Linked DNA regions of Homo sapiens. The protein of the gene in region 4 interacts with the protein of the main gene of each other region in a pairwise test. Each region holds a gene or a part of one and is shown on either strand. Other genes may lie near its edges.

Region 1 (3,778 bases), on a different chromosome or scaffold from region 4:
TAGAGACGGGGTTTCTCCGTGTTGGTCAGGCTAGTCTCGAACTCCCGACCTCAGGTGATCCGCCCGCCTCGGCCTCCCAAAGTGCTGGGATTACAGGCGTGAGCCACCATGCCCGGCCACCCCATAGACCTTTCTATAAGACTGCTCACAATAAAGCAACTGGCTTCCCCAGAGCAAGTAACCCAAACAAAGACAGAAGGCATGGTTTTTAAAATAACCTAATTTTGGAAGATACTACTTTTGACATATTCTATTGGCCAAACAGACCAACTCTGGTACAAATTGGGAAGAGACTACACAGAGTAGGAATACCAAGAGGGTGGGGCTCATCCTGGGGCTGTCTTGGAAGATGACTGCTATACTCTCTCGAAAGCTAAGGCTTTATAGAAATGAAGGCTTAACACTTCTAAAAAGAAGTTTACCTAAAAATTTGAGTTTCTTGGTTGAAAATGATAAGATCCTTAAAACCATATTTGACTCAGGTGCTGTTTCTTCCTGTTAGATATTACTGCAATGTCTGTGACTGTGTGGTGAAGGACTCCATCAACTTTCTGGATCACATTAATGGAAAGAAACGTAAGGCTTGGAGGTAGCTTGTGACTAGGGCTGGAATTGGGTTTTGGAGGTGGGGTGGAATGGAAGGGTAGCTTTTTTTTTCTTCTTTTTACTCATCAAAAGATGGCTGGAGTAAGAAGGGTAGTTTCTACTGGGCTCTTTTTTGATGCCCCTATTAGAACTCTCCAGTTGTTTCAGCACAGGCCGTCTTTTACTTCATTATGTAATATTTCTGGAGGCCGTGAGGTAAGAGGCCTCATTCTGGAGGCCATGAGGCTTTCAACAGCACCCAAACCATGTGCTGCTCCTGGACCCAGCTGGCCAAGGGAGTTTCTTTTAGCCATAATTATTTTTGCTGTGTGTTTTATGAGATGTCAGAGAAGTCAGGAAAATAATTTTTGAGGGGCTGAGGATGTTGTAATGAACTTGCCTTCTTCACTGTTGACCCTATGCAGATCAGAGAAACCTGGGCATGTCTATGCGTGTGGAACGTTCCACCCTGGATCAGGTGAAGAAACGTTTTGAGGTCAACAAGAAGAAGATGGAAGAGAAGCAGAAGGATTATGATTTTGAGGAAAGGATGAAGGAGCTCAGAGAAGAGGTAAGGGTCTCCTATCCTTCCCCTCTCCCCCAGATTTGAGTTTTATGTTATGAATCATGGGAGACCCTGTCCTCATCCCACTCCTACTCCCACCCCCAGAGTTGTATCTCCTGAGTTCTGTATATTAGCGGAAACATTTGTTGCCTTTGTTTAGGATTCTCATGATCTGAAGGAAATGGCTCTGAAACTACTTTTTTCTCCTAGACTCTCTGGGCCTTATTTTTTTTTTTGTAATTTAAAAAAAAATTTTTTTTTTTTTTGGTCATACAGATATTTCTCAACTTCTGATGGGGTTACCTACTGATAAACCTATCATCAAGTTAAAAATATCATAAGTCAAAAATACATAATACACCTAACCTACTGTAGTTTAGCCTAGCCTACCTTAATGTGCTCAGAACACATTAGCCTACAATTGACCCAAATTATCTAACACAAAGCCTATTCTATAATAAAGTATTCATCTCATTAATTTATTGAATACTGTACTGAATGTGAAAAACAATGGTTGTATGGATACTTGAAGTACAGTTTCAAATGCATGTCAGTTTTTCACCATTATAAAATTGAAAAATCTTGTCAGCATCATAAGTTGAGGACTGTCTCATCTGTATTCTTTGATTTAATTTTTTTAAAAGACTAAACTTTTTTTAGAGGAGTTTAGGTTTGCAACAAAATTGAGAGGGAGTTATAAAGATTTCCCATATACCCACTGTCCCCCACAACATGCATAGCCTCCCCCATAATTTTTTTTTTTTTTTAACTGCAAGAGGAATTAACTAAATGTACCTAGTCCTAAAGAGACCCATGAAATCAGGCTGACTGGGTCAAAATTCTGTTTCTTCCACTTACTGGCTGTGAATCTTGGGCAAGTTATATAACCTCTTTGTGCCTCAATATCCCCATATTAGAGATCTTAATATACATGAAGTACTCAGAGCAATTTCTGGCATGTACTGCATGCCCCAGAATGTTAGTTGTTGTTACAAACAACATTTGGCTGAGGAGTCTAAACTGATTCTGAGTGATTTTTCCCTCCAGGAGGAAAAGGCCAAAGCGTACAAGAAAGAGAAACAGAAGGAGAAGAAAAGGAGGGCTGAGGAGGACTTGACATTTGAGGAGGACGATGAGATGGCAGCTGTGATGGGCTTCTCTGGCTTTGGTTCCACCAAGAAGAGTTACTGAGGCTTTCTGTGCTTGGCCTGACTTTGGCCTATGCTGGACCTAACTTTGCGTGTGTGTGTGTGTAGTAGGGGGTCATTTCTTTTTGGGTAATGGGAAAGTTCTTAAGAGTGTCAATGGGGAGGGATAGAGGGTGGGGGCTCATGGTTTCCCTCTACTTTGGGAGAGGGCACAGATTGCAGAGGTAATGCTGTGGCATATTGCTTCTGCCTCAGTGTATCACTGGAGTCACAGGACCCTGCCCACCTGAGTTCCCAATAAAGAAAAACCTCCCCTTCTGAGGCTGCTTTCCCAAAACTCCCCCTGCATCTTTATCTCTTCATCTATCCCACCTCTTGTCTGAACATCCCACCTTTATCCTGTGTTCTGCCTTTGTTTTAATTTTAACTCATGTTCATCCTGCAACAGAAGCATTCTCTAGGTCCCAGTTTCCAGTTGATTGCATATCCTTGATCAGCCCTTTTTCCCATCCTGCCCTATGGTTCTCTAGCCACCTGTGCATGCATGTGTATTTCTGCCTGGTTCTATGGTGTGTGGATGTGTGTGCATGAATCTGTCATATAGAGGGGGTCCGAGCTGGAATCCTAGAGCATTGCTGCCCTGGGGCCTGATGTTCTTGGCTTCCTCAGAGCATGTAACAGGAAATTAAATGGGATGAGTGTTTGGTGTGGTTTGTGTCTGATGAGTTTTTTAACATTCAGGTGTAGATTGTTTCAGCTTCTCATGTTTCATTTTCCTGAAGATTTATGTTTTTGTCTACCTTGTGAGCAGGCTTTTGGAAGAACCTGTTTGATGCAAAAAAGAAAATGAAAAACAAAACAAAAAATCCCCAAAACCTTATTATGGGAGCCCGTCGGTCTTAGAAGCTGTTTGACATGTATAATAAATGGCATTGACTGGGCCTGTTTTACATTTGGTGAGAACATTCCATAATCTTCCCTGTGAATATTTGTTTTTCCTTCTCATGCTGAGGATTTCCATATAGAGTATTTTATTCTTCCATTTTAAATCTTATTTTTGCCTAGGTTTTTTTTTAGCATGAGTTATGTTTTCGTCTGATAAGGGATCTATGTCCAGAGAAGTCTGAACCAAAACGATTCCTATCATTTCAGACTCCTTTGATCTTTTGTTTTTGGAACAGCAGAGCTCAGGATTGAACATAATGTTTTTTCTTTTTTTTTTTTCTTTTTTTTGAGACAGTCTTGCTCTATCGCCCAGTCTGGAGTGCAGTGGCGTAATCTTGGCTCACTGCAACCTCCGCCTCCTGGCTTCAAGTGGCTAATATTGTATTTTTAGTAGAGATGGGGTTTCACCATGTTGGCTAGGCTGGTCTCAAACCCCTGACCTCAGGTGATCCACCTGCCTCGGCCTCCCAAAGTGCTGGGATTACAGGCGTGAGCCACTGCACCTGGCCCTTAGTGTTTTTCTTACTGTCTGCTA
Region 2 (7,038 bases), on a different chromosome or scaffold from region 4:
TGATGGGGAGTGGGGAGAAAGGTAGGAAAATAATAGATGATTGTTTAGGAAGACAGGCATACAAGTGGATCCATTCTACACAGTGCTTGTAGAAATAAAGTCTATTTGGGGTTTAAGCTGAAGAAAACTGCTCACTGAGACTGCCTGTTGCTATAGGTATTATACCCTTTTTGCAGTTGTTCTAATAATGTATTTGTGTATAACATTCCATATGTATTTAGAAGCATATCAGAACTACTCCTGAATAAGTGCAGAGAGTAAGCAAAACTAAGTGCAGAGAGTAAGCAGAACTCTATTGGAATGGTAGTTCCACATGTACATTAAGTATACAGACCATCAGAAATCTTTCAATATCTGCTGGCAATGTAGATCTATTACTTTGTGAACTTTGACTTTGAAATGTGGTTAGTCTTTTTGCGGGGCAAAGGACCTCTTTAATACATAAGCTGTGAAGAGAGATTTTTTTTTCTTGTAAACAGAAGCACATGGAGTCTTTCCTCTCCAGAAATCTTTGAGAAAAGCACATGCCTTAAGGAAGAGTATGTTTGCTGTGAATCACTGGAGGAAAACCACCCCGTTGAGGGAGTGACATATTCACATCAAAACTCAGTTTTGTAACTGGAAGAATTTTTTCTCAAATTCTGCTTTAGATTCTTTAAAGGAATGGGGTTATTTTATCTAATGGTGTAGTATGTTGAATATCCCTTTCAATGTGTGGTGTTTTTAAGGAGAATTTTCATATTCTAGTGGTTTTTACTTCTAGTTATGAAGTATTCTTTTTTCTTTTTGAATGTAGATTTCTCCTTCTCTTTGATTACCATCTACGATGGACCTGGAATTAATTATTAGATTTTGATTGAGCTGAACATTTTGATTTAAGCTATGTATAGATATATTAAGCTATATATATCTATTAAAAGCTATATATATAGCTTAAATTTAAATTCTAATTTAAGCTATATATGTGTGTGTATATATATATGTATATATACATACACTATTTAATTCATTTATTCTTCTCCTAAATTCCCTCTATGTTCTTCTCATACTCCTTCTCCCCATGAAAATACAGGAGGCATGAAGATCTTCCAACTGTTAGTGTATCTGAATCAGCAGTTTTAATCAGCCTAGCCAGCCTTTCAGGACGTGGGCTCAAGAGCTGAGGGAAGTTAAGGGTCACTGCCAAGGTGAAAAGCTAAAGTTACATTCTTGTGTTGTGGCTCCCTTCCCTACCCCCAACTTTTCCTCCAGGGGAGTGTCCTCGGACACCTTAGACTGTGGTGCGATGAGAAGAAAGATCTGTGGCTGTAGACTCTTCCTAGGTCTCCATCTGCCATCAAAATGAATATGTACACACATTCTTTTAAATGCTTTTAAAAGGAAAAAGAAATCGAAAACATGGTTAGGAATAAGAGAGAAGGATCAAATGGGAAAGTAGGATCTTCTTTCCTGTTTATTTCTTAGGGGGTGGGGGCGGAGCAAACAAGATAACTATAGGGGGAGAAGTTAGGAGATTTTGGAAAACTGCCTTTATTTTATTTTTTCCTCTTGCCCTGCGCCTCCTAGCATCTTTATGCTTGCCTCTGGGCTTTTCTGCTCCGGCTTGACTGGGTCCCGCAAAGTCCACTTCCTTTTTTTTTAATTTTTTTTTCCCCCAAAGAGAAGCACCTGCAAGTGTAATGGGTGTTACGGAACACTCGTCCAGGCCAGGATGAGAAACCCTCTGACTGTTGGCTAGGAAGAAAAGAAAAGCGGGAAATACTTAAAAACCATTTATGAAGTGTACCTGTGAATTGAAAAACAGGGTCTCATTTTAAGACAGCTTGATTTGAGGGTGAGGGGCTTGACTCAGTTGCATTTTAAAAAACAAAACCCAACCAAATAAAAAGGAATACGCATACAGGCACTAAGGTCTCTTCCAAACCCCACCCCAGGGCTGGCTCTTGGGGCTGGGATGCTGCTGGGGACCGGTCTTCCCAGCTCTTGGCCTGGCCGGTTTGCACGCAGTGCAGTTGCTGTGTGTGTGTTGCGGAGGGTTGCGGCAGCTGGCCCAGGACTGGGACCCTGGCCACAGCGGGTTCAAAGTAGGGGCAAAGATAGGGGGCAGCGGCTCCTTGCGGCCGCAATGGACTGCCGTCTCCTTGCACCAGGGGGTCGGAGCTGCAGCTGAGCCCAGCTTCTCGCCGCCTGCTGGGGACGGCTCTTTCCTTGGTCACTGTCAGGAAGCAGCTCACTAGGCAGCTCAGGAACCGCCCAGAGACAGCCACATCCCTTGCCTTTCCCTTGCCCAGCTCTTGGGCCACCACTCCCTCTCTGCTCTTCCTGAGCTTCACTACCCTCTCCTTCCCAAGGCAGGAGTCCCGAGGTGAGTTGACACCTTCTGCAAAAATCATGCAAACAAAAAATAGGATGCCAATATTGCATGGGACATACTTTCTCTAGAAAGCCTTCTTTGTTTATTTGATGGTCCCACTTAACTGGACATCCTGTTATTTTATCTGGCAACCATAGGCCTAGGCCTTCCTCACCCAGCCCCAGTACCCACGCAGGGCACCCCTTGGCGGTGGGGTCGCCTGTGCTCATCTCCTAGTTCTTTCTCTGCAGAGCCCGAGCTGCCTGGGACTGGCGTCAGGGAGGTGCTGGGGTCCATCCTGTGGATCTGGGACGGTTTGGCAGGAAAAACGAGAGTGTGTTCCACGTCTAGGAACCAGAGTTCTACTGCCATCTGGGAAAGAACCTCTCTCCACCTCCAAATCACTCCTTGGTGTTATAAATCTGGAGGATAGCCGTGCTCTCGACTTACACAACCAACTTTTCTTTTTCCCTGATGGATGAACTCCCGGGTTTAAAAGATTACAGTAATCACAGGAGGACAGTGTGAATCGAATCTGATAGCAATAACTTTCGGAGAAGGTCAGGCTCAAGTGAAATGTTACCAAGCAACAGGCATTTTGTTTGCAAAATACAATCAAAGAGCATTGATGAGAAATTCTTTGCTGCAGCCAGTCAGCACTTTCTGCTAACAGCTTTACAGAGAGAAAAGGAATAAATCTTCATAAATCAAAGTCCCTGGAGGACTCGGAGCCCTTTTCTGGAAATGTTGCACTTCTTCCTGACGGGAAGGAGGACTAAGCCCAGCAAAAAACCATGGGCCTGCCTGCCCTGCCTGCCCGCCTCCTCTTTCTTTCTCTTCCTTTCTTCCTCGCCTCTTGCTTTTTTCCTTTCTTCCCGCCTTTAAACCTGTTGCAGCCCCTTAGCCATTAGCTGCTCAGGTCCTTGGACCTCCTTGTCTAGTCCTGTGTGGCTCTGATGGCTTGTGCACGGGTGCTCATGGCAGAGGTGGAGGATGCAGTGATAGGACAGCTGGTCCTCACAGGTCCACCGCCTTGTGATTGTGTCAGTTACGTCCCACATCGCCTTAGTGAGTCATCCTCTTGCCTGAGCAATGCATACTACTGTTCTCAGAAGGGAAACTAAAATAACTAGGTATGGGGTTTTTTTGCATTTTATTGCATAAACAGCTATAAAAGGCACAATCAAGTACCAAGTAACAATAATAATAATGAAAAACTTAAGAGTCGGCACATCAATTCTTTACAAAATCTCCAATCTCTTGATTACAACAACTAGGCAGACATAAATTTTACAGAGCTGGGATTAGTGTTCCACGTTTTTCCCACTGATTATTACTTTGTTTAGTTCAGTATATATCTCTAGCACCCATAATCTTTATATGTAAGCATTTAAAACAATATTTCCTCCTGTGAAGACACCATGGTCTGCCCAGCTGCTATCCTTGGAATTATTTGCTGTATTTCACTGTGAAATATAACCAACTGCAGCTTACTTGGAATTTTGCAAAAGATTAGTTAGTAAACTGTATGCCTCTCAGTGGTCAAGAGGCAATGCTTTGATCATCTCTGTATGATCTTACCCAGCACAGTACATGAGAGCATAGTAAGGCATTTAGGGGCATTTGTTAAATAGATGGATGAGTTAGACAGGTGCATTTTGGAAGGTACCAAATAAACATGTAGATTTGTAGGTAATTTCCCCTCTGCTTCTTGGAAGGTATTCCCTTCTGAGTCAAGAAAGAGATCAAAACTAATTTTTTACAAAATATGTGAGGTCCACAGTTGCAAACCATACTTCCTTCAGCCCAGTCCTGTCTATAGCAATATTCCCCCAAAATATAGTGTCAAGGAACCACTCTGATTCCTTCATACGTTATTAATTCAGTGTTGTTAATGATTTTTTAAAAAGTAAAGCATGGCTAGTTTTTTTTTTTTTTTTAACTTTTCACAACCCTCCCCAACCCGGCAATCCACCCCAGGAAGAAAAGGAAAGTTTTTAGATCGAGATCATTCCCTGGTGTTCTTTAGATTTTCAACTATTCATTTTTTTAAAATAATTCATCACTTCTAGTGTGAGATGAAGGTAAGAGAAAATGTGAAGCGTTTGTCTACGATTAGAATTCTGATTAGGCAATGGTCTCCTGTAAAAGTCTCATCCTGCCTGGGCTCCCTCCCTTGCCATTGTTGTAAGATTTATGTGCTTTGAAAACTACCCATCAAGGACCTGTTATTTACAGGTGTGTTCCCCACAGCTCAAGTGAACAGATGAGGATATGACAATCTATGTTTCAAAATGCGTGACATGATTTCAAAAGGGATGGGGGAGTCCAGTGACTTTTGAGCTAGGAAATATTCCTCTCTGCTCGAGTTTTTCTGTGTTTTCATTCTGTATGTAAGAACTATTTTGTTTTCGTAGATATAATTGGATAGAATGGATATAACCTATGACATCTAAGTCAGAAAGATTTTTCACATTTTTTTTTTTTTATTTAGACAGTCTAATTCTGTCGCCGCAGCTGGAGTGCAGTGGTGAGATCTGCAGCTCACTGCAAGCTCTGCCTCCCGGGTTCACGCCATTCTCCTGCCTCAGCCTCCTGAGTAGCTGGGACTACAGGCACCTGCCACCATGCTCGGCTATTTTTTTTTGTATTTTTAGTAGAGATGAGGTTTCACCATGTTAGCCAGATGGTCTTGATCTCCTGACCTCGTGATCCACCTGCCTCGGCCTCCCAAAGTGCTGGGATTACAGGTGTGAGCCACCGCGCCCAGCCAGATTTTTCACTTTTATGCATCGTGAGCAGAATGTTTGTTTCTCATATGTGGTAGACTTTCTCAAAGTATTTGAAATAATACATTTTTTTTTTACTAAATTGCATTTTTATGTGAAAAACTCCCCTAAAGAAAGTTACATTTTCAAACTGTAATTTTAGATTGAAAGCACTTTTGTGAGTGTTTATTTTCTCTCTTTAAAGTCTTGTAGCAAAAAAAGAAAAAAAAGTATTGTAGTCATCTTATGGCATATATATTTTGAAGTCGGTAGCATTGTTATCTGTAGAAAAACTTTTCTTTTTAATTGAATATCTACTTCTTTTAAAAACCTCTTTACCCTAGTGCACAGTTTATTTCAGGGATAGCTATAAGTGTTTCTACCCCATGAAATATGAAATGGAAGAGAGAATATTAAGATTTTAAAAATATGTACATGTTTAGCAATAGAAACAGCATATTGTATCACTTTCAGTAATATTTGTCATATTCGATAAAATTGATTTCTTCCCTGTTTAATAGCTTTGACTTTCTATACCCATCTACCGGGGTAAAAATATTATCAGTTGATATACACTCTTAATGTTCTAGGAATTAGGGTTTCAGTTTCAAGAAGAAAGAAGGTAAAATGTTTCAGGAGTATTTCCTATTTTATTTTGTTAGTTGGCAGTTTCACATTTCTATGTCTAGAAAGGCCTTTATGTTTTAAACCAACTAGAATGATTTGTAAAGTTTATTTAAGAACAAATCTGGAGATGTAAAGAAGTACCTGTTATTAAATTACACTTTATCACTGGGCTCAAAACTCACCCTCTATAATTACCTGTGAAAGTCTGTATTTATAATAGAATAATTTACAATATATTTAGTTTAGGTGCAATAATACAACCAGTACTAGACACCATAGCGCCACAAAATTGCAGGAACTATATATCCTGCCCTTCAGAAATTATTGTTTGGTGAGGAGTTATTCTTGGTGCAAAGTTAGAGGCTAGTCTTCCTTTGCCTAGTTTTGAAACTCCAACAGCCTTACATGTTGATGGGGATTTGGCTCACCCAGCACTACTTAGCAGGACCTTGTGTGCGGCTCAGGTGCATAAGCCTCACAGGTGTGCTCTGCTTGTTCTTTCATCATCTTTGTCTTTCCTTTGAACACAGTGTAAGCAGTGCTGAGCTCAGCTGGTTGGTTGGTTTACGCTGAATTTGTAGATTTGATTCCTGTGACATTGTGTTAGCTTTTCTCATATTTTGGCTATAGCCAGACGGCACAGAGACCTGCGGAGAGAGCATGGAGGATTCGGTGTAATCTATCACCACTCCTTGACAAGTAACCAGAAGTGCATGATGCACTAGCATGTCCCAGTAGCAGGGGCAAAGGGTAACACAACAAAATGAGAAAGTGACTTTCACAGTCTGAGAGTTCACAATTGCTGAACAAGCTGGCACTGACATAAGATTCCACTACCGTCTGTTCCGCAGAACTTAGGAAAATAGGTACAAGAGTGGAATTTTATATTGTCAGACTTGTAATCCTGGTATCAAGTATTCAGTTGATTGGGACAGTATATCTGTTGCTACCTTGAAAAAAAAAAGCCTCCATTTTTGTAATGGTAGAGTCATTATGTTAGTGAGAACCTCATTCCCTAATTCCCCTTTCAGTTAGCCTTCTGCTGTTTGATCCACTTTTTTTCTGGAGACTGAAGTGTACTGTGGAAGAGTCAATTTGGTTGACAGACCTGAGAAAACACTTCCTAATATGTTTTCAGTGTTTGAAACTTATCTAAAGTGGGGGCAGGGGATGTACCTTTTAAAACACAAAGCTATTTGGTTCATATATTTCTTTTAAAAATAGTTGAGCTGGCCGGGCGTGGTGGCTGACTCCTGTAATCCCAGCACTTTGGGAGGCTGAGGCGGGTGG
Region 3 (7,167 bases), on a different chromosome or scaffold from region 4:
CCAAAAGCTGAACAACAAGAGTTTGATGAAAGCAGGCACACACATTTACCAAGGGAATATATGCCTTCTATATGACTTCTCAAAACTGATGGATTTAACTATACATTATACAGCATTATTCCTAATTATATAATGAAAAACAGTACTATCTTATTTTTACCATTTATTATGTTAATAGTAGGTCTAAATAATTTTAATCTTGACTGGTTTATCAGTGGTCCATTTTATAAGCTATAGTTAATCATTTATTTCCTAATAATTTTTATAATATTCCTCAAAATGAATGTTAACATATTTATTTGAATGGAAGAATAAAGTCAGACATGTTTCTAACAGAAAGTAGGTCTGATTTGGCTGATTGGTTTGAAATGAAAACTGGCTTTGCCAATTCCACAAATGGCAGTTGTTTTCTATACAGTGAATGAGCTGAATCTGCATTTCAGTTTAACAAAAAGTTCTTGAAGACATGTAATAATTAAAGAATTTTACCAAAAAATATTGTGTAGGCAAAGAAGTATGGAAATCAATATCTGATTAACAAAGTGTCTCTGAGTGTAAAGGTCACAGATAATTAATAATCATGTTTAATAAAACCAAAACTGAGACTCTAATAACTAAATCCTTTTGGAAGTTCAGTGGTTTCTAATCCTTTGCTTTTAACAAAATTAAAAGAAGACTCTATTTGATAGTATTAATAGATCACTCTGTGATTGTTGGCATATAATTTAGAAGTTCAAAGACTCAAAGAATATCATTGTAACAAATCTCTTCCTTTCCCAATTGTGGAAACAAGGTTTCTCAATACTCATGTCTATAAAAATAAAAAACAGGTAAAGGATTGATGTTGCACCTTATCTCCTTCTACCATTAGGTAATATTAATCCATGAATACCTGAACTAATTGGGGAGAAACACCATATTTCTCATTAACAGATGCATTTTCAATAAAAATTGTACTTTTTAGGTTTCACAAGTCATAAAAATGTTAAAAATATTTAGGAAAATTTAGTATTTAGTAATATTTAGTAAAAAAAAAAAGTTTAGTAAGTTATATACTAATGATTACAGGAAGTGAATGGAATTCAAAGTATAAGGAGAAAGAGAACCATATAAAATTTCTGTTGAAGAGCTTGTTCATATATTTTTAAGTGGATGATGGTAGGCATTAGATTTTTAGGGTACTTGGAATCCACCGGATACTTTTTTTTAATGTGAGACAGTCTCACTCTGTAGCCCAGGCTAGAGTGCAGTGGCACGATCTCAGCTCACTGCAACCTCCGCCTCCCGAGTTCAAGTGATTCTCCTGCCTCAGCCTCCCGAGTAGCTAGGACTACAGGTACGCACCACCATGCCCGGCTAATTTTTGTATTTTTAGTAGAGACAGGGTTTCACCATCTTGGCCAGGCTGGTCTCGAACTCCTGGCCTCGGGATCCGCCTGTCTCAGCCTCCCAAAGTGCTGGGATTACAAGCATGAGCCACTGTGCCTGCCCTGCCAGATACATTAAGAATGATGTAGACCAAGTGTGGTGGCTCATGCCTGTAATCTCAGCACTTTGGGAGGCCAAGGCGGGCGGATCACGAGGTCAGGAGATCGAGACCATCCTGGCTAACACCATGAAACCCCGTTTCTACTAAAAATTAGCCAGGCATGGTGGCGCATACCTGTAGTCCCAGCTACTCGGGAGGCTGAGGCAGGAGAATTGCTTGAACCTGGAAGGGGAAGTTGCAGTGAGCTGAGATTTCGCCACTGCAGCACTCCAGCCTGGTTGACAGAGCGAGACTCCGTCTCAGAAAAAAAGAATGATGTAAGTCTTAGTTTAAGATGTCAAAATTTGAAATTGTATCCTCTATAAGTATTTAAATTAATGAAGGAAAATTTAGGTATCAACTTAAAAATGAACAAGAGGTACATAGCTCTTCAAAATTCTTTTATGGGTTCATTCTAAAAAATGTCTGAAGATCACCAGCCTATATGTTGAGTGGAAGGGATAGGAGAGAAACTGCTAGCAATGGTCTTCAATACTGCCCTCCAAAATATCCTCACCAATTCTCCTGAGAACCTGAAATTACCTTCCATTAGGATCATTACTTCAGATTCAGACACTGTTTCCCAGAGCTCTTGTTAAATGTATAATTGCAGAGGTGACTGGCCATCAGATTACGATCCGTAAGGAATGTGAGAAAAGACAGATATATATATACAGAGAGAGCTATGGAAAAAGGGTGGTTGGAGAGGGACAAACTCAGGTACAGCCTGAGTTCTATTCCCTGCGGTATTTCTAACCCTCAATTCATATTATAAGAGGAGCTACTTAATCTTCTCTCTGTATCTATAAGGTACTTTTTCTTTTTCTTTTTTTTTTTCTTTTTTTGAGACGGAGTCACACTGTTGCCCGCGCTGGACTGCAATGGTGCGATCTTGGCTCACTGCAACCTCCGCCTCCCGGGTTCAAGCAATTCTCCTGCCTCAACCTCCGGAGTAGCTGGGATTACAGGCGCCCGCCACCACGCCCAGCTAATTTTTTTGTATTTTTAGTAGAGAGGGGGGGTTTCACTATGTTGACCAGGCTGGTCTCGAACTCCTGACCTCGTGATCCGCCCGCCTCAGCCTCCCAAAGTGCTGGGATTACAGGCGTTTAAGCCACGGCGCCCGGCCTATAAGTTATTTTCTATGGGAAATAACTTGTCAAACTTCCACCAAAAAGGAATGGAAAGAGGGCAGCATAGTGGCCAGGCAGTTTATTTCCATACTAGGAGATACAGAAGGGATTAATTCTAACCGTAGGAATTCTAACCATCAAATGTCACTCACTGGCCTACCTAAACTGAACTCTGGTCCCAGCCAGAACAAGTCAGGAAGAGGGGATGTCTAAGACCGAAAGGGGGGCTTTCTAGTTAAGCTCTTCAGGCAGGAGAGGAAAAGGATGCCCGCATCCCCAAAGACACCTTTAGCTACCACAAGCCCCAAACCCCGTACTTTGTAACTGTGTCTAGTTTACGTCCTTTAAAAATTATTCTTATTAAGTTAAATTGTTTTCGGGGCGGGGAAGATACAAAAGAAACCAGTTAAAGTCTGAAAGGATAGAGAGGGGAAAGTTTCTCACCTCATTCTTCCAGCCACCCAGTTCCTCTCCTAAAAGGCAATCTTTACCAGTTCCTTCTCTAACGCCCCTCCTTTTTAATTTGATTTTTTACCGAAAGCTCGCTCCCTTTTAATTTTCCCTCAGGTTTCTGAAAATTTCCCAATCGCAGCCCCTCCCAGCAGGGAAATAGTAAAGGGGCTTGGTTTTTATGTTCAACCCAAAGCAAGCCTACAAAAGGGAGTAGTCGGTTTCGAGCCTGACGGTGGAGCTGACGCGGGAATGAGAGAGAACCTGAGAAGACCGCCAGGGCGCCCTCCCTGCGGAGGCGAGTCCCTCACCGCCCCTCTACATCGTCCTTTTCAATAAGGAGCTCTTAATACCTGCAACTGCTTCCTTCAAGGGGTGGCTGGAAGATCAGTAGGCAAGGCCTGCGGACTGCGCACCTTAAAGCGCTTCGGGACCGTAAGACAGTGAGTGCTGAGCGCGCGGCCGGGAAGAAGCCTGGAGGCTCTGAGCTCGGAGGACAGAGACCGAAGCCCCAGGGCCTGCGTCCCTCACAACCTGCGCCTCCTGTCCTCCCGCGCTACTCCCGAAGCGCACCTTCTCGCCCGCAGGCCGCAGAAGTGATGACGCAAAGCCCTCGGGGCCTCCGCCACCTCCTCACGCTTCTGCTGGACCGAATCCTTGGAATGGACAGGTAGCGGTTCCCGATTGCTATAGCGACGACCCGGCTCCGAGCCGCGCCCAGGCCCTGACCCGGGCGTCGTGACGTCAGCACGCCTTCCCTGGGCGCTCAGCCTCGCTGGCCATGCGTCACCCCGGCCTTGGTGGGGGCGGGGCTCCGAAGAGCTCGGTTCAGATCCCGGCCGCCTGGGCTCCAGGAGCCCCGGAACCAGGATAAGTTGGATGGCTGCCGCGGCGAAGCGGGGGGCGGGGTGGACCGTGCCCGGTATTTTCTATACGGGTTCCGGGGCCCGGTAGAGGCGCGCCAAGAGGAAAGGAAAGTGCGGCGGCCCTGGAACCTGGATATCGCGCGAGGCAAGCTGCGCGCGGGCGGGCGGGCTATGGCGCAGGCGGGTTGTGGGGCCGGCGCTGGTGGCGGGGCCCGGTGCATGGCGGTCTGTCGGCGGAGTCGCCCTCGGGGGCTGTCAGGTTGGTGGCTGCGGGAGGAGTGGGCCAACCATGCCCAGGGCGGGAGGCCGGGCGGGCGCAGGACCCCGGGAAGGTCCCGAGCCCGGCGTGCCCACCTCCCTCCGGCCCTAGCAGGGCGGCCTGGCCGCTGGACCGCGGCCGGGCCCCCTCCCCCACCCAGGGTCCCTGCCCCTCTTTTCCGCCTTGCGGCTCCTCCCCCGTGACTCCCAAACCTCACCCCGTGACGGCGCCCGCCTCCACCCTTGTGACCCCACACCCCACCCACTGACCCCAAGACCTCACCAGGTAACCGTTGGTTATTATTCATTGGCTGCTAACCCAGGAATTTCCCCAGCACTTCTCAGAGACCCACCAACCAGTGACTCCCTCAGTTTTAATCCGGTGACTCACATGACCCTGAGATCCCCACACTCCTCCTTAGTGACCCCCAAACCTGGGTAACCCTCCTGGCCCAGTAACCCCCCCGATTCTACCTTGTGTTCCCCACAAACTCGGTGACTCCCCTCAAAACTCTGCTGGCGACTCCTAAGCCCTACTCCAATAGTTTTCCACGCACTCACCTTGTACACAACCCTCAGTATCTTTATCCTGTAGCCGTATGACCCTCGTTCCACGTCTGCCTTTATCCTAAAATCACCCCCACTGGCATCTCTCTCTGCGATCCCAGCCCTTCAGTGTCAATCAGCACATGACTTACAAGCGTCCAGCACCTTTCTGGTGCTAAGGAGGATATAGAGATTAATATGAAGTAGTAATAATTGGAGGCATCAGAGAATTCTGGATCAATCCAGAATCCAGTCAATCCAGTGTGTGGTCCCAGCTCTGTCACTGCTGTGCTTTAGGGACCTGTGAGAAGTCCCCTCCTCAGTCTGGACCTCAGTTTCTCATCATGACTGTGATGAGGTTGGGTTAGATGATCTTTGAGTTTCCTTCCGTCTGTGAAATTGTGAAATTATGCAGTTCTCAGTCAAGATAATAATTTTTTGCAATCATTTTTGTACCCCACCCTGGAAATTTCCTCTTGTAACCTCATCCCAGGATCTGCTTGCATCATGAACCTTACTCCCTCATTCCCGGATCACCCTCTTCACTCTTCATAGTGCATACCCATTTCCCTTGATCAGGCCCCATCAGTTAACATGTTTGCAAAGCAGTATAGCAGAGTGCTTCATTTGGGGGCATTGAGTTCATAACAAACCTAGGTTCCAGACTGATTCTGGCCCTTCAGCTATGGGACTTTTGGTATATTATTTAGCCTGTCTTAACTTCAGTCTCCACCTCTGCGAAGGGAGAAAATAGTAGTGCCTGACATAACATATGTAAAGCACCGGGCACCATGCCTGGCTCATGGGAACCCTTAGCATAAGCTGTTGTTAGAAATGAGAAGCTGCTATGGATCTTACTCTGTCCTGAGTGCTAGGGATTTAACAGACTGAACATGTGGCCCATACCTTGCATTATGTTGCTACTACTGACATCTTGGAATCCCTATCTTCTCATCTCTGCTGTAGCCTCACTTCTCTGGTTCTTACCCTGATTTTGCCTCAATAACGATTGGCTTGCTGAATACCTACTGTGTGCCAAGCTCTGGATATATAAGTTAAATTTACGTCTCAACAGCCCCAAGAGTTAATTATTATTATATCCACCATTTTCCCTTCCCATATTTTTGTTTGGTTGGTTGGTTGGTTTCAGAGAAATGAACCAGAAACTCTCACAGCTAAGTAGCAGAGCTAAGATTTGAACCCACAGTTTAAAAAAACAAAACAAAACCCTACTCCATTGCCTGTCTTTCCCCCAGACTTACTCAACCTCAGCTCCTTATTCCTTATTTTCTAGTAATTCCTAAATACAACATCAGCTCGTTCCTTGATCCCTAAGGTTTCTGTTCTTGAGCTCCTAGCCTCAAGAGATCCTCCCACCTTAGCCTCTCAAGTAGTTGAGATTATAGGCGTGAGCCACCAAGACTGGCCCTGACCCCCAAGGTTTCTATTACCGTTTGCCATGTAACTTGGTGACTTTCTCATCCTGCTGTTCATGACTTTTGATCTCATATCCCCTGAAGCCCCTGCACCTTGTAGGGGAGGGAAAATATCTTCTTAGGTTCATGGCTTAGGCCCCTATAACAACAGATTTAATAAGAGAAGATTATATACATTTATTTAATGTAAGTTTTATGTGACAGGAGCCTTCATAAGGAAATGAAGACCTAAAGAAATGATTAAACTTGTATATTTTTATACTAGATCTGATGAAGAGTGGATAGTTGTGGAAAAATACAAAAAGGGTAATATCAAATAGTAATAAACTGGGAGAAACTTAGCAAGGCCTGTTTGTTCAGACTCTTCTCTGTGTCCCTGTGTCTTCACAGATAAGGGTGCTTCTTTCCTCTGAGTATAGGGAGGGCACCTCTTTATGAGGAGGGTATTATGACCTGCTTCAGGGGAAAGTCAGAAAAATCCTTCCTAGGTTTTGTGATCTGCTTCAGGGGAGAAGAGCCTCAGAGAAAGTGAGAGTGACCTTCCTACTGCCATTTTCTCAAGTTGCCATATTTTGGAGTAGTGTCTTGAACCCAGTCAACTTCTCTCTTCATCCTTTGCCCAAATATCTCTTGTTCTATGAATCTTTGACGCTTCCAGCCCTTTCCCTGTGAACTCACTCACCATACAGTGTCTCCCACCTCACTGGCACTTTACCCCAAATCCTTTCATCTTGTTAAGTCCCTTAGCCCCAGGAATCCACAAGTCTGTATGCTCTAAAACCATCTAGCCCAGTTGCCTTTCATCCTATTTTTTAGTCTCAGTGTTCTACTCCCACCACCCCACCTTCTGCCATCCTCAGCCACATTCTGTGACCTGAAACCTTCATATAATTTGTCCTTCATTTAGTGACCTCTTGATGTGACTAGCTTCAATGGAATCGGCTCCTTCC
Region 4 (7,038 bases):
GGGAGGCTTATAATATCTACCACACACATGTTTGAAACGAGTTGTTGAAAAGAGTCAAGGAGTTTCCCCTTTTCTCTGAAATGATTTCTACTTCCTATGTGAATTTGGATGCCTTTAGATCTTATCATCTTGACCCTTCCCACCAACGGGTATACCTTGTCTATCAATTACCCATCCATCAGTCATCTATCTACCATCCACCCACCCATCCACAGAGACTCTCTTTTTGACCAAACTTTAGTCAGGCTCCCCTGAGCCCTCTTCTCAACTGGGCCTCAACCTTGGCCCGTAAGAACTGCAGCTTTCAACACAAACAATTTTGTCTGTGCTCCCACCCTCCAACGGATTTGAAAACACTGTAGCATGGTGTATTAGCCTGTTCTCACCTTGCTGATAAAGACATACCCAAGACTGGGTAATATATAAAGGAAAGAGGTTTAATTGACTCATATAGTTCAGCATGGCTGGGGAGGCCTCAGGAAACATAGAATCACGGTGGAAGGGGAAGCAAACACGTCCTTCTTCACATGGCAGCAGGAGAGAAAAATGAGCAAAAGGGGGAAAAACACCGTATAAAACCAGCAGATTTCATGAGAACTTACTGTCGCGAGAACAACATGAGGGTAGTTCCCCCATGATTAAATTACCTCCCACCTAGTCCCTCTCATGACACATGGGGATTATGGGAATTATAATTCATGATGACATTTGGGTGGGGACACAGCCAAACCATATAACATGGCATCTAGCAGCCTAAGGCCATGTGTCTGGGATCACCCAGCCTCACTTGCATTCCTACCTAGAAAAGCTCAAGGCTGCCCCAAAGAATTTATCTTTTGTTCTAGCCCACACAAATGATAATAGGCCCCTGACTTTCATTTTGTTAGATCGTTTATTAAAAACTTACAATTGTAATTCTTTCTCTGTGCCTTTGAGATATATGTGTATCTCCTACCACCTGGAGTGTCTTCCTCAGTGTCTGTGAGCCATTCCTTTGAAGTGTAATCATCAGGGAGGATAGGGCTCTGTCCTCTAGTCTCTGTAGATGGGTAGGAGCCTAACTTTGACAAGTGCCATTTAGCAGTCACAGATGGCCTAGTCTCATTGGCAAGCCCCCTTGCCTGATTGCTGTAATGTTCTGTGTCCTTGACCCTGCTTGAGCCCCCACACATTCTCATTTCTCCTCCCTACTTCCTTATTCTCCCTTTAAAACACCCAGTCACCTCTACCTGAATTGGAGTTGAGCTCAGTTCTATACTGAAGTCTCTTTCTCTCACTGCAGTTGTACTGGGTAAAATCTGTCTTTACTGCCTTTAACCAGTGTCTAGCTTTTTTTTTTTTTTTTAAACACCATCCAACAAAAAAGTTTGAGTGTCTCCATAGGCCAGGCACTTTTACATATTAGGTATAGAGCAGCAAATAAAACAGACAAAAACTGCATCCTTGAGGAACTTACAGTGTAATGGAATGAATCAGATGAGGTTAAGTACTTAATATATCAGGTATGGATACTGCTATGGAGAAAATAAATCAGAGATGGGGGAGCAGGAGTGGGTTATGGGGAATTGCTATTTCAAGTAGTGTGGTCAGGGAATGCCTCACTGAAAGGAGATGTTGAGCAGAGCCCTAAAGGAGATGGAAGAGTGAGCCACCTGACCAGAGTGCAGCTGGCATTTGTGGGGAGCACAGGGAGGCAGCTGCAGGCCGCAGTGGGGGAATCTCATGCTCATGGCCAGCTTTTCCTCATGACAGCAGCCCCATCCCCCACTCCAGCCACCTGAGGCTGCCCACGAACACTGGTGTTGTTCTTGGGGCCTTAGTGGTATGGTGGCTTGGAACTGAGGACCTCTCAGGGCATCGGAATCCAGCCTAGACCATACCTGAATAGGAGTAAGGAATGAGAGTGTATGTTTTCAATGATGGCTCCCACTGGTTTGTCATAGGAAAGAGGCTGGGGGCAAGCTCACTCCAGCCTGGATTCCCTGCAGTCACCCTGGGAACAAATGGAACTATGATGTATAAAAGATGTGGACAGTGGAAACCACACGGCTCTTTCTCGAGGAATGTCTTAATATCAGGAACCTAGAACAACTTTCTGATTTGAACTGAGCCTAGAGAGAATCCCCAGCTTAAAGGGAACTGGGGTTGGTTAGGGTTTGAGGAGGGGAAATTACTCAGTCATTGACCGAGGCTCCTGCATGCCCAGATGGCTGCTCAACATCTGCTAACCAGAACAACACACACACACACACCCCTGGCAACAGGCTGTCATGAATTTCTCCATGGAGAAGGTGAAGAAACCATTGGGGAGCAGCAGCCAGGGCCTGTCTGCTGGTTTTTAGTTACAGCCTTTCTATACTCATGGGGACAGGGGTATGGAACCAGGATGGGATAGCTGTTTCATTTTTTAAGCTGTTAGCTTGTAACCATTTTAAACTCTCAACAACCAAAACACAAATCTCTCATATAGAGGTTCCTTGGATTGTTTGCTGGTGGGTAGGGAGCATCACAGCAGCTTGAGTGAGCATATGCAGCTGGCATTGGGGAGGTGGCATTTATAGGAGTCTGGTGTTCCTGACTCTTCTCTGTGCCTGTCATGACTTCATGTGGTCTCTTACTTTGCAAGCTTCTCTCACGTGCCCTATTGTATTTGGAAAATGGGGAACTTAAGGTCATTCCTGGGTATTTGATACTCCTCTTTAGCTTTTGTAAGTGGGCCTTCTTCTAATTGGTTGTATATATTCTATATGTTGGTTGTATTACATATAACCAATAATTGATATATAGAAAGCTATTCTAAAATGTAATGTAACCAAGCACTTTTCAAGCTCTTATTAATTATAACCTTGTTTTGTGGTTATTTTCCTTGGATTTTCCAGATAGATGGTCATATCATCTGCTAAATAAGTAAATAAATCAATAAATTTAAAATACATGGTTAGATGAATGAATAGATAAAAAATGATTACTTTGGTCTCTTTATTTCTATTTTTTATTATCAGACTAGATAGAAGACGAGACTGTTTATCTGTTGAGAGATTTTAAAAACAAGATTATTGTATTTCAGCCAAATGTACTTCCCTTGTCCCAGAGAGGATAGGCTATATGATCTCTGAGGTCCTCTCCTTATTAGTCTTTTTACTCTGTTTACTGTAGACCCATTGTACCAGTATGTTCAGTTCCCATAGAAAAACAAAAGAGTGTTTACACACAGTCATTATAGATAAGCCAGCAGTGTGTGTGATTAGGGCCAAACCAGTATTGATGATGGCCTGATACTGACTTTAGAAAGTTTGACTCACCTTGCAGAAATGAAAAGCCAACATAATGCATTAGCGTCTATGAAGACTGTAATAAGGCAAATACATTTGTCCAGAAACAGGCTGATATTGATACACTGATTTTAAGTGCTTTTCCCCAAAAGTACAATAGAGAAAGCCAGGAATATATAGCCTTGGATTACAATAAATGATAATAAAACAGCAGAAGCAAATAACACTTAATAGGGAAGTTTATTTTCCACACTTCATCAGATTGCTACTGCAGAGTACTAGTCTAAAAATTTAATATGAACACTAGCTCTGTAAATACGGGAGAAGTAATCTCAAATCATCCTGAATTAATTATCTTTGTGCTAAGCTGTTTGACATTACTCATTGAAAATAGCTTCTCAAGACAGGCAGTATTTTTCTACACACAAATAATTGTGTTCTCAGGTTGGAAATGTTGCCACATATTAAGCCAAACACATTTTTTTGCTTCTAATTCTTATATTACTATCAGTTTATTTCAGGGAAAGTTAATTTGAGAATTGAAATCATGTAGCAGAATAATTTTGGTTGAAATTGATGTTTCTAAGCCTGATGCATTTTCCATTAGTGTTACATGGTATCATTGGAAGTTTGTACAGTGAACATGCCAAACATTAGGTTTAGTTTTCTGAAGACTCTAGCAAGTATTCTTTTTTTTTAAATCCACATTGTATTAGTTTAACTGGCAGGTAGTAATTAGTTTTATATTGAGTGAGCTAATTTGCCACTACTAGCAGATTTTGAAGTTATTTTAATATAAATACATTGTCCTCTACCCCCAAACTTTATACTGAAATTTTTCTGCTAAATTTTAGGATTATAATTTTGATAATGGCCCAGGATATTGGAATAAAATATAAATGTGAGTTAGCATTAATATCTCAGTTTAGAGAATAACAATAAAAGCAGGAATGTGACCTGCAGCCACATTTCTTCAGTATCGGGGGAAATTCAGCCCCCAATATTTGACGTGGGTCCTTTTCTATTTTCCCTAAGTATTGGCCGGTCTGAGAAATAAAGGGAAATAGTACAAAAGAGAGAAATTTTAGAGCTGGGTGTCTGGGGGAGACATCACATGTTGGCAGGTTCCGTGATGCCCCTCAAGCCGCAAAACCAGCAAGTTTTTATTAGTGATTTTCAAAAGGGGAGGGAGTGTACGAATAGTGTGTGGGTCACAGAGATCACATGCTTCACAAGGTAATAAAATATCACATGGCAAATGGAGGCAGGGTGAGATCACAGGACCGGGGTGAAATTAAAATCGCTAATGAAGTTTTGGGCATGCATTGTCATTGATAACATCTTATCAGGAGACAGGGTTTGAGAGCAGACAACTAGTCTGACCAAAATTTATTAGGCGGGAATTTCCTCGTCTTAATAAGCCTGGGAGCGCTACGGGAGACTGGGGCTTATTTCACCGCTTATCCACAACCGTAAAAGACAGACGTTCCCAAAGTGGCCATTTCAGAGACCTCCCCTTGGGAATGCATTCTCTTTCTCAGGGGTGTTCCTTGCTGAGAAAAAGAATTCAGCGATATTTCTCCTATTTGCTCTTGAAAGAAGAGAAATATGGCTCTGTTCTGCCAAGCCCACAGGCAGCCAGACTTTAAGGTTATCTCCCTTGTTCCCTCAACATTGCTGTTATCCTGTTCTTTTTTCAAGGTACCCAGATTTCATATTGTTTAAACAATTTGTGCAGTTAACACAATCATCACAGGGTCCTGAGGTGACATTCATCCTCAGCTTATGAAGATGACAGGATTAAGCAATTAAAGTAAAGACAGGCATAGGAAATCACAAGAGCATTGATTGGGGAAGTGATAAATGGCCATGAAATCTTCACAATTTATCTTCAGAGATTGCAGTAAAGACAGGTGTAAGAAATTATAAAATTATTAATTTGGGGAACTAATAAATGTCCATGAAATCTTTACAATTTATGTTCTTCTGCCATGGCTTCAGCCGGTCCCTCCGTTCGGGGTCCCTGACTTCCTGCAACACTCCAGGGTCAGCAGTAGAGAGAGGCTAGTTGAGCACTTGCCTCAGGTACAAAATTTAAGGGACACCAAGACACTTAGTAATACAAATAAATATTTTATGCATTTTAGAAAATCAAGATTAATGCAAAAAATCCATAATGAACAAAATATCAAAATTTTAAAGGAAGACAGGATCAGTATTACTGAGTTTTCCTTTTGTGTCAGGCTCCAGTTTGGTTTGTAATAGCACTGTTACTGATCCTATCTATAAAGTTTTAATATTTCGTTCATCATGGATTTTTTACATTAATTTTGATTTCCTAAAAATATTGCATTAATATATTATTTATCTTGGAACACATCTGAATTATTGGAGTAAAGACATTCTGAAAAGTCTCTCCTGCACAATAACAATGAAAGCACTGGCAAAAATATCAAAATAAACCATTTTAGAATGGTGGAAATTAACGAAGGGTTTATAACAATCTGAGGAATATTTATTCAAGAAAAAGGACTGAATCTCAGTAAGAACAGTGAACTTTGTCATTTTTAAACTTACCTTATTCCCATTCCTTCATCCGCAGCTCCATTGTAGCCTTCAAAACTAATAGCCTAAGTCAGGCACAGTGGCTCACACCTGTAATCCTAGCACTTAGAGAGGCTGAGACAGGTGGGTCACCTGAGGTCAGGAGTTTGAGACCAGCCTGGCCAACAAGGTGAAATGCTGTCTCTCCTAAAAGTACAAAAAAAAAAATTAGCCAGGCATGGTGGTGTGTGTATGTAATCTCAGCTACTTGGGAGGCTGAGGCAGGAGAATCGCTTGAACCCGGGAGGTGGAGGTTGCAGTGAGCTGAGATTGCGCCACTGAACTCCAGCCTGAATGACAGAGTAGGACTCCGTCTAAAAAAAAAAACAAACAATAACTAATAGCCTAGAAGCCACTGAAAGGGACAAAACAGGTTTAGAGCCCTCTAAGATCCCCAGTCTCAGAAAATTGTCACTATATGATTGCTCTAGAAGCTTCTTAAAAAACTCCATTCTCAAAGCTTGTTTTGCAGAGCCCTGTGGCATTTTTGGAAAACAATCAGCAGTAATTGTTTAACCTCTCAGCTGCCTGAGGCAGTGACACCAGTTGGGGTTAACAAGAGGTTAACCAAAAAACTTAAAAGGAAAAATTGGAAAAGGAGCTACCTATGGGGGCTTTAAAAACCTTTGATGTAGTCTTTGGAATCTAGAAGTCCCATGTCTGTATGTCCAGGAAATACTTAATAAGGCCTTAATCTGTCATCTCAGACTAACAATGAGGCTTTGCATAAGTAAAGTAGGAAGAGAAGACTAAGAGTTGTAAACTACCTGCTGGAGTGTTAAAAGCATGTACCCCACCCCCCAACACGCGTAATCCCTCAGCAAAGACAGAAATCTCTGTACCGTCATTAGCTGACCACTGAAGCTAGACTTCAGCAGCTGCACATGATAAACAAAGTAGACTTTACATAATTAGTCTGGGAAATAGCAATAGAAACAATAGTAGCAACAAATATAACAACAAACCTTTATGCAGAGTGGAATCTTATTTCTAGGTTGCCATATTTTTTTAAATCCAGTTTTCAACATAAAATTTCCACACACACAAGCAGTAGCATATGGGCCATAACAGGAAAAACAAAAGTATCCCTGAGAAAGTCCAGATACTGGACTTAGTAGACAAACATTTTAAATTAGCTATTATAAATGTGTTCGAAGAGCTG

The links.
Region 1: the proteins of MTUS2 (region 4) and ZMAT2 interact in binary tests that used the Homo sapiens proteins (3 or more experiments, as listed by UniProt).
Region 2: the proteins of MTUS2 (region 4) and DMRT3 interact in binary tests that used the Homo sapiens proteins (3 or more experiments, as listed by UniProt).
Region 3: the proteins of MTUS2 (region 4) and ZNF76 interact in binary tests that used the Homo sapiens proteins (3 or more experiments, as listed by UniProt).

What each region holds. Positions count from the first base shown.
Region 1 is NC_000005.10:140,703,416-140,707,193, forward strand, and holds the end of ZMAT2 (zinc finger matrin-type protein 2), read left to right. Parts: intron 1-502; coding exon 503-576; intron 577-1,010; coding exon 1,011-1,156; intron 1,157-2,197; coding exon 2,198-2,341; 3' UTR 2,342-3,271; downstream 3,272-3,778. UniProt on the Homo sapiens protein: Involved in pre-mRNA splicing as a component of the spliceosome.
Region 2 is NC_000009.12:979,632-986,669, forward strand, and holds part of DMRT3 (doublesex- and mab-3-related transcription factor 3), read left to right. Parts: intron 1-7,038. UniProt on the Homo sapiens protein: Probable transcription factor that plays a role in configuring the spinal circuits controlling stride in vertebrates.
Region 3 is NC_000006.12:35,255,606-35,262,772, forward strand, and holds the start of ZNF76 (zinc finger protein 76), read left to right. Parts: upstream 1-4,129; 5' UTR 4,130-4,236; intron 4,237-7,167. UniProt on the Homo sapiens protein: May be involved in transcriptional regulation.
Region 4 is NC_000013.11:28,823,339-28,830,376, forward strand, and holds part of MTUS2 (microtubule-associated tumor suppressor candidate 2), read left to right. Parts: intron 1-7,038. UniProt on the Homo sapiens protein: Binds microtubules. Together with MAPRE1 may target the microtubule depolymerase KIF2C to the plus-end of microtubules. May regulate the dynamics of microtubules at their growing distal tip.